Linked DNA regions of Homo sapiens. The protein of the gene in region 1 purifies or fractionates together with the protein of each later gene. This does not show direct contact. Each region holds a gene or a part of one and is shown in the gene's direction. Other genes may lie near its edges. The genes, in order: GPATCH8, DHX8 and TMEM165.

What was found.
Region 2: the proteins of GPATCH8 (region 1) and DHX8 purify together in Homo sapiens (co-immunoprecipitation; one large-scale study listed by IntAct). This does not show direct contact.
Region 3: the proteins of GPATCH8 (region 1) and TMEM165 purify together in Homo sapiens (affinity purification with mass spectrometry; one large-scale study listed by BioGRID and IntAct). This does not show direct contact.

Annotation. Positions count from the first base shown.
Region 1 is NC_000017.11:44,433,830-44,437,483, reverse strand, and holds part of GPATCH8 (G patch domain-containing protein 8), read left to right. Parts: exon of another isoform or gene 1-938; coding exon 939-1,006; intron 1,007-2,332; coding exon 2,333-2,419; intron 2,420-3,654.
Region 2 is NC_000017.11:43,518,412-43,522,065, forward strand, and holds part of DHX8 (ATP-dependent RNA helicase DHX8), read left to right. Parts: intron 1-1,718; coding exon 1,719-1,856; intron 1,857-2,339; coding exon 2,340-2,468; intron 2,469-2,957; coding exon 2,958-3,154; intron 3,155-3,635; coding exon 3,636-3,654.
Region 3 is NC_000004.12:55,419,907-55,423,419, forward strand, and holds part of TMEM165 (putative divalent cation/proton antiporter TMEM165 precursor), read left to right. Parts: intron 1-3,513. UniProt on the Homo sapiens protein: Putative divalent cation:proton antiporter that exchanges calcium or manganese ions for protons across the Golgi membrane.

The DNA of each region.
Region 1 (3,654 bases):
TTTTTCACTAAAGGTGTACAACGGATAAGGTAAGTCCTCTTTTCAGTGGGCTTACATCACAATAAAAAGCGCAGGTTGTGATGTAAAACAGCTGTGGTAGTAAAGTGCTTGTCTGCCCCATTTTGCTTTGTTTGGCTGGTTATGAGTGGATTAAATATATATTTATTAAAAAAATTATCCAGCATAGATCAATTAGTTTAAAGTCAATTTTCTTCGCAACTAGTCCTTTTCACAGCTTACCAGTTACCCTCGCAGCCAGTGTTAAATCCACTCTAGGAAATGGGACTTTAGAGCACCAGATTAAAAGGAAAACTATTCTTTTCTCTAAGGGCAACTAATTGTTTCTTTTTATTTAAACTTTTCACAGCCCCATTAAATTGTAAAGCATCTCCTAGTCTATGAGGAACATCAAAAAAAATTGTAAAGCATCTTTTGAAAACAAATTCAACATACTGAGTTGTAATTATAAAGTTTTACTGCATCATGTTTAAAAATGTACTTTTTCTATTTAACCATGCCAGTTGAGATTTTTTTTTTTAAACTAGGTTAAAAAGTTGTGTAGGAGGATATCAGTGGGCAGAGTAAAGTGATACTTGATGGGAAGTTATTTGGGGATCTTAAAAGGAATTTTTAAAGTTTTACAATTTAAACCTCCTGATGCCATTGCTTAAAAGTGCTTTGCATTACTTATTAATGTAATTTTGCCATAGTAATTTGAAATTAATCCCAACTGGACGTCAGCCAAGGTGGTTAATTGGGTTTAAACTAGGAAAGGAAGGTCTTGAGTGTAAGCTGTGAGAATGGCTTGTGTTTGGTTCACTGTAGCTTTCTGGTCTCTGCACTCCAAGGCAAGATCTCTAACCACCCAAAACCCAATGTGTAAAATGAGCTGTTGGTTTGGCTTTGCACCTTACCTTGATTATGTGTTCCTGTTACAGGGAGAACAGATCCCATTCCAATCGTTGTCAAGTATGATGTCATGGGCATGGGTCGCATGGAAATGGAGGTAAATTGATCTCATTAACTCATAAGTTTTGTGAGATATTTTGAAATAATACTAATTCCAAATTCAGATGTCTGTGCAAGAATACATTTATCAGATGAAATGTAGTTTTAATATTTTTCTTTGGATGACTAAAAAATATATTTTACATTTTCATTTAGTGCTACTTTTGAGACAAATAGAATATAAACAGAGCTGCTGTTTTAACTGGCACATAAAGAAGTTAAGTGATTTGCCGAGGGTTATACAGCAAGGCAATATCAGACTTAGATCCAGACCTTGGTACTTGCTTCAGTAGGCAGTGTTGCTCAGCTCTTAAAATGTTGCTGTGATAAAAGCTTTGCCTTTGTAGAATTGGGTACGGCTGTCACCTGTAATACCTGCTTTTCATTGCCTAAAATATTTTCTTCATTGACTCCTAATTCCTTTTTTTTTTTTTTTTTTTTTTTTTGAGATGGAGTTTCGCTCTTGTTGCCCAGGCTAGAGTGCAATGGCGCAGTCTCGGCTCACTGCAACCTCCGTCTCCCGGGTTCAAGGGATTCTCCTGTCTCCTGTCTCAGCCTTCTAAGTAGCTGGGATTACAGGCGCATGACACCATGCCCGGGTAATTTTTGTGTTTTTAGTAGAAACAGGGTTTCATCATATTGGTCAGGCTGGTCTTGAACTCTTGACCTCAGGTGACCCGCCCGCCTCGGCCTCCCACAGTGCTGGGATTACAGGTGTGAGCCACTGTGCCCAGCCTCAATTTTCAAAGAATTAGGAGTCGCTGGGCGCAGTGGCTCACGCCTGTAATCCCAGCACTGTGGGAGGCCGAGACAAGCAGATCACCTGAGGTGAGGAGTTCAAGATCAGCCTGGCCAACATGATGAAACTCCATCTCTACTGAAAATACAAAAAAAATTAGCAGGGCATTGTGGCGGGCACCTGTAATCCCAGCTACTCAGGAGGCTGAGGCAGGAGAATCACTTGAACTCGGGAGGCAGAGGTTGCAGTGAGCGGAGATCATGCCATTAAACCCCAGCCTGAGCAACAAGAGTGAAACTCCATCTCAAAAAAAAAAAAAAAAAAAGGAAAGAAAGAAAAGAAAATTAACATTGAAGTGAAGTCTACTTTCAACAAATGTGCCTTTTGGAAACTACCAGCCTGAAAGTAACAAACTATTTTGCATGTGATTTTCTCTGTGAGGTGACAATAAAGCAAGCAGTAGCTAAGCAAAATTACAATTTTTTTTTGTTTTCAGATAATACTGTAGTTGTGCAAATAACTTTTTCATAGCTAATCTTGGGGGTACTTTAGGAATTAAATCTAATCATATCTATTTTTGTCAAGCTTGATTATGCTGAAGATGCTACCGAACGGCGCCGTGTCCTAGAAGTAGAAAAAGAAGACACAGAAGAGCTGAGACAAAAGTACAAGGTATTTAAACAAAGCTATTCATTGGGAGATGGGGAGGTGCTCACTGAATAAGAAAGAACTCAAATTTTGTTGAAAATCATCACTGTTGCTAACAGCATTTGTTTGACATTTGGTGGTAATTAGTAGTAGATCTCAGATTTCTATTACATTCCTATTTATTGGCTCTGTATAAACTATAGAGATAATAATACCTACTTCTAAAGTGTGTTAGAAAGATTACATGAATTAGTGTTTGAAAACACAATGCCTGTTACATAGTAGGTATTCAAGTAGTGGTAGCAGTAAAAATTGTTAAAAGTCCTTTGAGGCCAGACACAATGGCTCACACTTGTAACCCCAACACTTGCAGAGGCCAGACACAGTGGCTCACACTTGTAACCCCAACACTCAGTAGAGACGGGGTTTCACCATGTTGGTCAGGCTGGTCTCGAACTCCTGACCTTGTGATCCACCCGCCTCGGCCTCCCAAAGTGCTGGGATTACAGGCGTGAGCCACCACGCCAAGCCTAATTTTTGTGTTTTTAGTAGAGATGGGGTTTCACCATGTTGGCCAGGCTGGTCTTGAACTCCTTGCCTCAGGTGATCTGCCTGCCACGGCTTCCCAGTTTGCTGGGATTTCAGGCGTAAGTCACCGCGCTTGACCCCCTTTCTTGTTTTTGAACTTAGCTTAGCTATATATTAAATTTTTGTGTGTTTTATTTTATCCAGAACTATAATATAACCAACTCATCTTCTTTTCCTGCCCCTTTTTCTTTCCCCTTTTTCTTCTCCTTTCCTCTCTCTTTATTCACTCTTCAGCCTATTTATACTGACTTTAGCAGTTTTCACCAAACCACTTTATTCAAGGCCACCAAACACTTCTATTTGCTAAATCCAATAAATCATTTATTTATTTATTTATTTTATTATTATTATTAATATTATTATTTTTTTTAAAGACTGAGTCTCACTCTGTTGCCCAGGCTGGAGTACAGTGGTGTGATCTAAGCTCACTGCTCCCGGGTTCAAGTGATTCTCGTGCCTTAGCCTCCGAGTAGCTGGGACTACAGGTATGAGCCACCACGGCCAGCTAATTTTTTTGAATTTTTGGTAGAGATGGGGTTTCACCATGTTGGCCAGGCTGGTCTCGAACTCCTTACCTCACGTGATCTGCCCACCTCGGCCTCCCAAAGTGTGGGGATTACAGGCGTGAGCCACTGCGCCTGGCATACTCTTTCTTCTTTAAAACATTTTCA
Region 2 (3,654 bases), 920 kb from region 1:
TGGTGGTTTTGTGAACATAGTTTTTACCCAGTGTGAACTCTCTGAAAGCAGGGGCCATATCCTGGCCATCTTTATATCCCTCCCACCTAACATGGTATGAGATCCCTCATAGATATATAGTAGAAATGATGTATGCAAGAGACAGGACAAGTTGGTAGACTATATTATTATTATTATTATTGTAAAATACATAACAACATTTACTATTGTAAGCTTTTTAAAGTATACAATTCAGTGGCATTAAATACATTCAAGATGTTGTACAACCATCACCAACATCCATTTCCAGAACTTTTTCATTGTCCCAAACAGAAACTCTGTACCCATTAAACAGTAACTCCCCTTTCCCCCTTCCTCTATCCCTTGGTAACTACTCTTCTACTTTTTACCTCTCTGAATTTGTCTATTCTAGATAGCCTCATTTAAGTGGAATCATACAATATTCTTTTGTATCTGACCTGTTTCTCTTAGAATAATGTTTTCAAGATTTATTCATGTTATTTTCAAGGTTTATCCATTTATTTCATTCCTTTCTAAGGGTGAATAGTATTCTGTTGTATGTATATACCACATTTTGTTTATCCATTCATCAGCAGATGGACATTTGGATTGTTTCTACCTTTTGGCTATTATCAATAATGCTGCTGTGAACATTAGTGTGCAGGTATCTGTTTGAGTCTGCTTTCAGTTCTTTTGGATATATACCTAGAAGTGTAATTGCTGGGTCATGTGCTAATTCTGTATTTAGCCTATTAAGGAACCACCAAACTTTTCTACAGTGGCTGCAACATCTTACATTCCCACCAGCAATGCATGAGGTTTCTGATACCTCCCGTCCTCACTGACATTTGTTAGTTTCTGTTTTTTAAAAAAATTATAGCCATCCTAGTGGGTATGAAGTGATATTTCATTGTAGTTTTGATTTGCATTTCCCTAATTACTACTGATGTTGTGCATCTGTGCATCTTTTTATGTGCTTGTTGGCCATTTGTATATCTTCTTTGAAGAAATGTCTATTCAAGCTCTGTGCCTATTTTTTAAATTGAGTTGTTTGTCCTTTTGCTGTTGAGTTGTACATATTGTCATTTTGAGAGAGTGTTAGGGTTTTTTGTTTTTTTTTTTCTTGGAAGACGTTTTATCATGTTGCCTAGGCTGGTCTCAACTCCCGGACTCAAGCGATTCTCCCTCCTTGGCCTCCCAAACTGCTGAGATTACAGGTGTGAGCCACCATGCCCAACTGAGAGAATATTTTCAAAAAGTTTCCTGAGAAATTATGTGCTTTCCTTTGGGAGGCCGAGGCAGGCGGATCACTTGAGGTCAGGAGTTCAAGACCAGCCCAGCCAACATGGTAAAACGCCATCTCTACTGAAAATACAAAAATTAGCTGGGCATGATGGCGGGTGCCTATAATCCCAGCTACTTGGGATGCTGAGGCAGAAGAATCGCTTGAACGTAGGAGGTGGAGGTTGCAGTGAGCTGAGATTGGGCCACTGCACTCCAGCCTGGGTGACAGAGTGAGACTCTGTCTCAAGTATGTGCTTTCTATTATAATAGTCTGAGTTTTATGTGGCCCAGCCCTGGAAGTTACCGCCAGTCTCACCGGTGGCTTCCTAATTGCAATTGAAGAAATGGGAAATAAAGTAACAAGTAGCTTCCCCACATGCTGACACTGGCTAGACTGACCCTCTTATCACATGCCTTCTTCCTTTCTGTTCTAGGCCATGGGTATCAATGATCTGCTGTCCTTTGATTTCATGGATGCCCCACCTATGGAAACTTTGATCACAGCCATGGAGCAGCTGTACACACTGGGGGCCCTGGATGACGAGGGCCTGCTCACTCGCTTGGGCCGCCGGGTAAGGGACAGACTCAACTTCCTGTGCTTTTGGGAAGATTCCCTGGTCAGCCTTTCACATCCTTCGGTCTGTACAAAATCAGGCTGAGGCCGTGGATAAGCTTTGAGTAAAATTCTAAATGTTTGTTTTTAACCTGAATTTCTCCACTGTCACTTTAAACTGTTTCTTCTTTATACAAAAAGGTGTTCTGTTCATAATTTTGCCTGAGGATGTATTACTGAATGTAGCCTTAATTAGAAACGGCATCTGCAAAATTCTCATCTACCCCAACAGTAGTTATATGCTTGGTCACATACATCCCGTTGGAGTTTATTTGGGAAAAGAATAAACAACAGCATTCTTCTGATAGAGAAAGGCATCCCAAGGCATCATTATGCTTTGGGAAAATCTGTGTTGTTACCCACTCTGACCAAGGTCTTGCTCTGGTGAATCCAAATGTGTCTTCCACAGGGAAGCAGTTGTAGTCTTTTTTTGTCCCTCTAGATGGCAGAGTTCCCTCTGGAGCCAATGCTATGCAAAATGCTCATCATGTCTGTGCATCTGGGCTGCAGTGAGGAAATGCTGACCATTGTATCCATGCTGTCTGTGCAGAACGTCTTCTATAGGCCCAAGGTAGGAAGTTCAGATCCAAGTTTAGATGGGGGTGCCATGAAGTTGGGGTAGTTGGCCTGTTGCCATTCCAATGCTTGATGTGGACTTTTTTTTTTTTTTTTTTTTTTTTGAGATGGAGTCTCACTCTGTTGCCCAGGCTGGAGTGCAGTGGAATGATCTTGCAATCTCTACCTCCCGGGTTCAAGCAGTTCTCCTGCCTCAGCCTCCAGAGCAGCTGGGATTACAGGCGTGCGCCACCGTGTGCTGCTAATTTTTGTATTTTTAGTAGAGACAGGGTTGCACCATGTTGGCCAGGCTGGTCTCAAACTCCTGGCCTCAAGTGATCCTCTTGCCTCAGTTTCCCAAAATGCTGGGATTACAGGCCTGAGCCATCATGCCTAGCCTGATGTGGACACTTTTGATAGGGTCTTGTAGGGCTCCCTAGAATTGCTCCATGTTCAGTTAGTAGCTGTTGAGTCGGAAATGTTCCTCTGTCCCACTGCTTGGCAGGATAAACAAGCCCTTGCAGATCAGAAGAAGGCCAAATTCCACCAGACTGAAGGGGACCACCTCACCCTGCTAGCTGTGTACAACTCCTGGAAGAACAACAAGTTCTCCAACCCATGGTGCTATGAGAACTTTATCCAGGCTCGTTCCCTGCGCCGGGCCCAGGACATTCGCAAGCAGATGTTAGGCATAATGGACAGGTAAGCTGGAATCTGATGACTCTGCATGTTTGAGTTGAACCACCTTGAGTATCATGTCTTTTCATCTCTGTGTGTACCTATAAAGCTATAGGCACCTTTTCTCTTGCTCCTCACATAACCCTTTTCCTCCAGCTTTTCCATCTTTGTTATATTCCTTCTCCCCAAGTAAGGGTATGCCTGAGAATTACCTCAGATACCTAAGAGGAAGATTATCTGTTAGTTGTTGAAAAAAATGCTCTTTGTTTGCAACCCTCTGGAACATTATTACTGTGGAATTGAATACCTGTCTAAACAAAGTGTCTGTCTCTGAGTGCCTCCGTCTGCCCACTGTGTAGAGCTGCCTCTGTAGTACACTTAGGGCTGGAAGGAAGGTCCTGGTGACTACTCTGGGCACCCCAAGATGGATGTGTTGGGCACTGTCATTGTGAAAATAGACCTGTGAAAGCTGAGTGGGCTCATATCTTTTGTCCTATCTTGATAGACACAAGCTGGATGTTGTT
Region 3 (3,513 bases), on another chromosome or scaffold:
ATTCTCATAAAACAAACTTTCTTTAAAAATATCACTTTAATTAGCTGGGCGTGGTAGCGGGTGCCTGTAATCCTAGCTGCTAGAGAGGCTGAGGCAGGAGAATCACTTGAAACCGGGAGGCAGAGGTTGCAGTGAGCCGAGATGGTGCCACTGCTCTCCAGCCTAGGTGACAGAGTGAGACACTATCTTAAGAAAAAAAAATATATATATATATACATATATATTTATTTATTTATTTATTTTATTTATTTATTTAATGGCTGTACCCTATATTCTTCTTGATTTCTAGCCTTTTATTGGCTCTCAGATTGCCAGAGTTGGGACTCAATAGTAAGTAACCATTTTGTTGAGGTGGTAGTGATTCTACCAGGGTGAGTTATCATGACAGCAGAATCACTGCGTTTTTCTCTCTACTCTGTGGCATAGACTCTATGCCATAGAGTGACGTGTGAAAGGCTTGAGGCTCCCTACCTACGAGACACCCTGGTCCATTCTAGCAGTATGGCACGTGCTGACTGGGTTTTGAGTCTCTTGCTGTAAAATCACATTACTGCACTTCCCTGCATTTTCTCATCCAAAAATGGGGATTACCTGCTTTGTGGATCGGTTTGCAGATGAAATAACACACGCAGGGTATCTAGCATGGTCCCCCACATGGCACATTCAGTGTTAGCCACACTTCCATACTAACTGCCCTGCGGGGATATTTAATGAGCTCTTAAATGGCAGAAATGTTGTGTCTTTTCCTGTTCCCTTAGTATTCCTATTTTTGTTGGTAATTTTTCTTATGAACCATGCAGTTGTCTAGTTCAGGCCATTTTAGTATGCAGTTTTATCTTTGCTTCCAACATGATTTAATGTTCCCAAATTGGATTTCACATAATCCTAGTGTCCTTTGAGACTTGAATTGGTTCTAGGCCAAAAAAGGGTGAGGGGGAAGGAAGAAATTCAGAGTCAAATTTGGCAAATAATATATCCCTGTCGTTTTGTTTTTTCTTTTTAAGACTTGGGCCAGGTGTGGTGGCTCACGCGTTTAATCCCAGCACTTTGGGAGGCTGAGGCAGGCAAATCACCTGAGGTCAGGAGCTCGAGACCAGCCTGGCCAACATGGTGAAAAATACAAAAATTATCCAGGCATGGTGGCCCACGCCTGTAGTCCCAGCTACTCGGGAGGCTGAGACAGGAGAATCTCTTGAACCCGGGTGAGCCGAGATCGCGCCACTGCACTCCACTCTGGTCGACAGAGCTAGATTCCATCTCAAAAAAAAAAAAAAAAAAAAAAGACGACTCAGTATACAAATAAAGACTGGAAAGTCCTATATTAAAGGAACTAGTTAAATACTAGTTTATTTTACTTAATCTAGTGAATTTTTAAATATTTTCTTTCTTTCTTTTTTTTTTTTTTTTTTTTTGAGACAGGGTCTGGCTCTGTCAACCAGGCTGGAGTGCAGTGGCACAATCTCAGCTCACCTCAACCTCCACCTCCTGGGCTCAAGCCATCCTCCCACCTCAGCCTTCTGAGTCTGGGACTACAGGTTCCCACCACCATGCCTGGCTAATTTTGTATTTTTTGTAGAGACAGGGTTTTGCCATGTTGCAGAGGCTGGTCTCGAACTCCTGAGTTCATGCAATCTGACCACCTTGGCCTCCCAAAGTGCTGAGATTACGCCCGGCCTAAATATTACTTTCAAATAGAACCATCTTCATGGGTAGCAGTTTATAATACACAAGTAGAATTTGGGAAATGTAGTCCCAGTCTTCCATTCTTCACAGTGGATGCTTCAGCCAGTTTCCTGTCTCTGCACACACACTGCCCGACAGCGGGCTTTCCCTTCTCCTTCAGAGCAGTAGCAGTTCCCTTTCTTCATTCCCACCCATCACAGTGGCAGCCCCCTCTGCCCTCCTGTATTCTGAATCCCACCCTTATAATATGCTTAGATTTTGCCTTTCTCCCAGCCGTTTTGTGAGCATTGTTCGTGTGTACCAATTTTTTCTCATCCTTTAAAAAGAAAAAAAAAAAGCCCCTTTTCTCAATTGTACATCGCAAATCCAACTCTTGCCCTCCTGCAGTGTCAGAGGACTTGGCTGTGATGGGAATAAGCCTTGGCTCTGTTCTCCTTGCATACTTAGCCCATGGGAACCCAGTTTCTGGCCTCACCAGGAATGTTGTTGTGCTTTGAGCTCCCTGTGGCCTTGCATGATGCCTCCGTTGGTCCTTACAGGAGGTGATTGGCTGGCCACCTCACTTGCTTTCTCCTGTGGACCCTTCTTTCTCTGTCCTTCCTTGAATGCTGCCTTTGTCCCTCATGATTATGCTATCAACATTCTTCTCTTTCTGCTTTCTCTGTAACAGGTTTATTGACTCTTTTTTTTGAGAGTCTTGCTCTGTCACCCAGGCTGGAGTACAGTGGCACAATCTTGGCTTGCTGCAACCTCTGCTTCCTGGGTCCAAGCGATTCTTCTGCCTCAGCCTCCCGAGTAGCTAGGATTAGAGACATGTGCCACCAAGTCTGGCTAGTTTTTGTATTTTTAGTAAAGATGGGGTTTCACCATGTTGTCCAGGTTGGTCTCAAACTCCCAACCTCAGGTGATCTGCCTGCCTCGGCCTCCCAAAGTGGTGAGATTACATGTGTGAACCATCCACCCACCCTGATTCAACTGACTCTTAACTTTAAAAATCACATTGGTCTTACCATACATAGTTCATCAATTGTGGGAGAGAAACTTGGGTGTCATGCTTTATTTATTTATTTTTTTTTTGAGATGGAGTCTCACTCTGTCACCCAGGGTGGAGTGCAGTGGCACGATCTCAGCTCACTGCAACCTCAGCCTCCTGGATTCAAGCCAATTCTCCTGCCTCAGCCTGCCCAGTAGTTGGGACTACAGGTGCCTGCCACCACACCCGGCTAATTTTTTGTATTTTTAGTAGAGACAGCATTTCACCATGTTTCAGTCTCCTGACCTCGTGATCCACCCTCCTCGGCCTCCCAAAGTGCTGGCATTACAGGCGTGAGCCACTGCACCCAGCCTATTTTTCTTTTTTTAATAAGAGATGGAGTCTTGCTTTGTCACCCAGGATGGAATTTGTAGCATAGTAGTGTGATCATAACTCACTGTAGCTTCAAACTCAGGCTCAAGTGATCCTCTCACCTCAGCCTCCTGAATAGCTGGAACTACATGCATGAACCACTGCACCATTATTTTATTTTTAAGAGACGGGATCTCGCTGTACTGCTCAGGCTAGCCTTGAACTCCTGGCCTCAAGTGATCCTTCTGCCTTAGCCTCCTGAGTGGCTGGCTCCACTCTGCTTGGCTCTGATATTTTTCCATAAAGCCTATCATTCATTTATCATGGAGGTATGTTAATTTTGCCTTCTTAATTTCTCTCAAATTCACCTGCTCTTTGCCTACAGTCATCTGCCCCGATCTGGGGCAACGCAGTTTCTTCCCAGGGCTGTTGCCATAGCATCGCAGTGGATCACCCTTCCTTCAGTCTTGTTCCCCTCTGGTTCT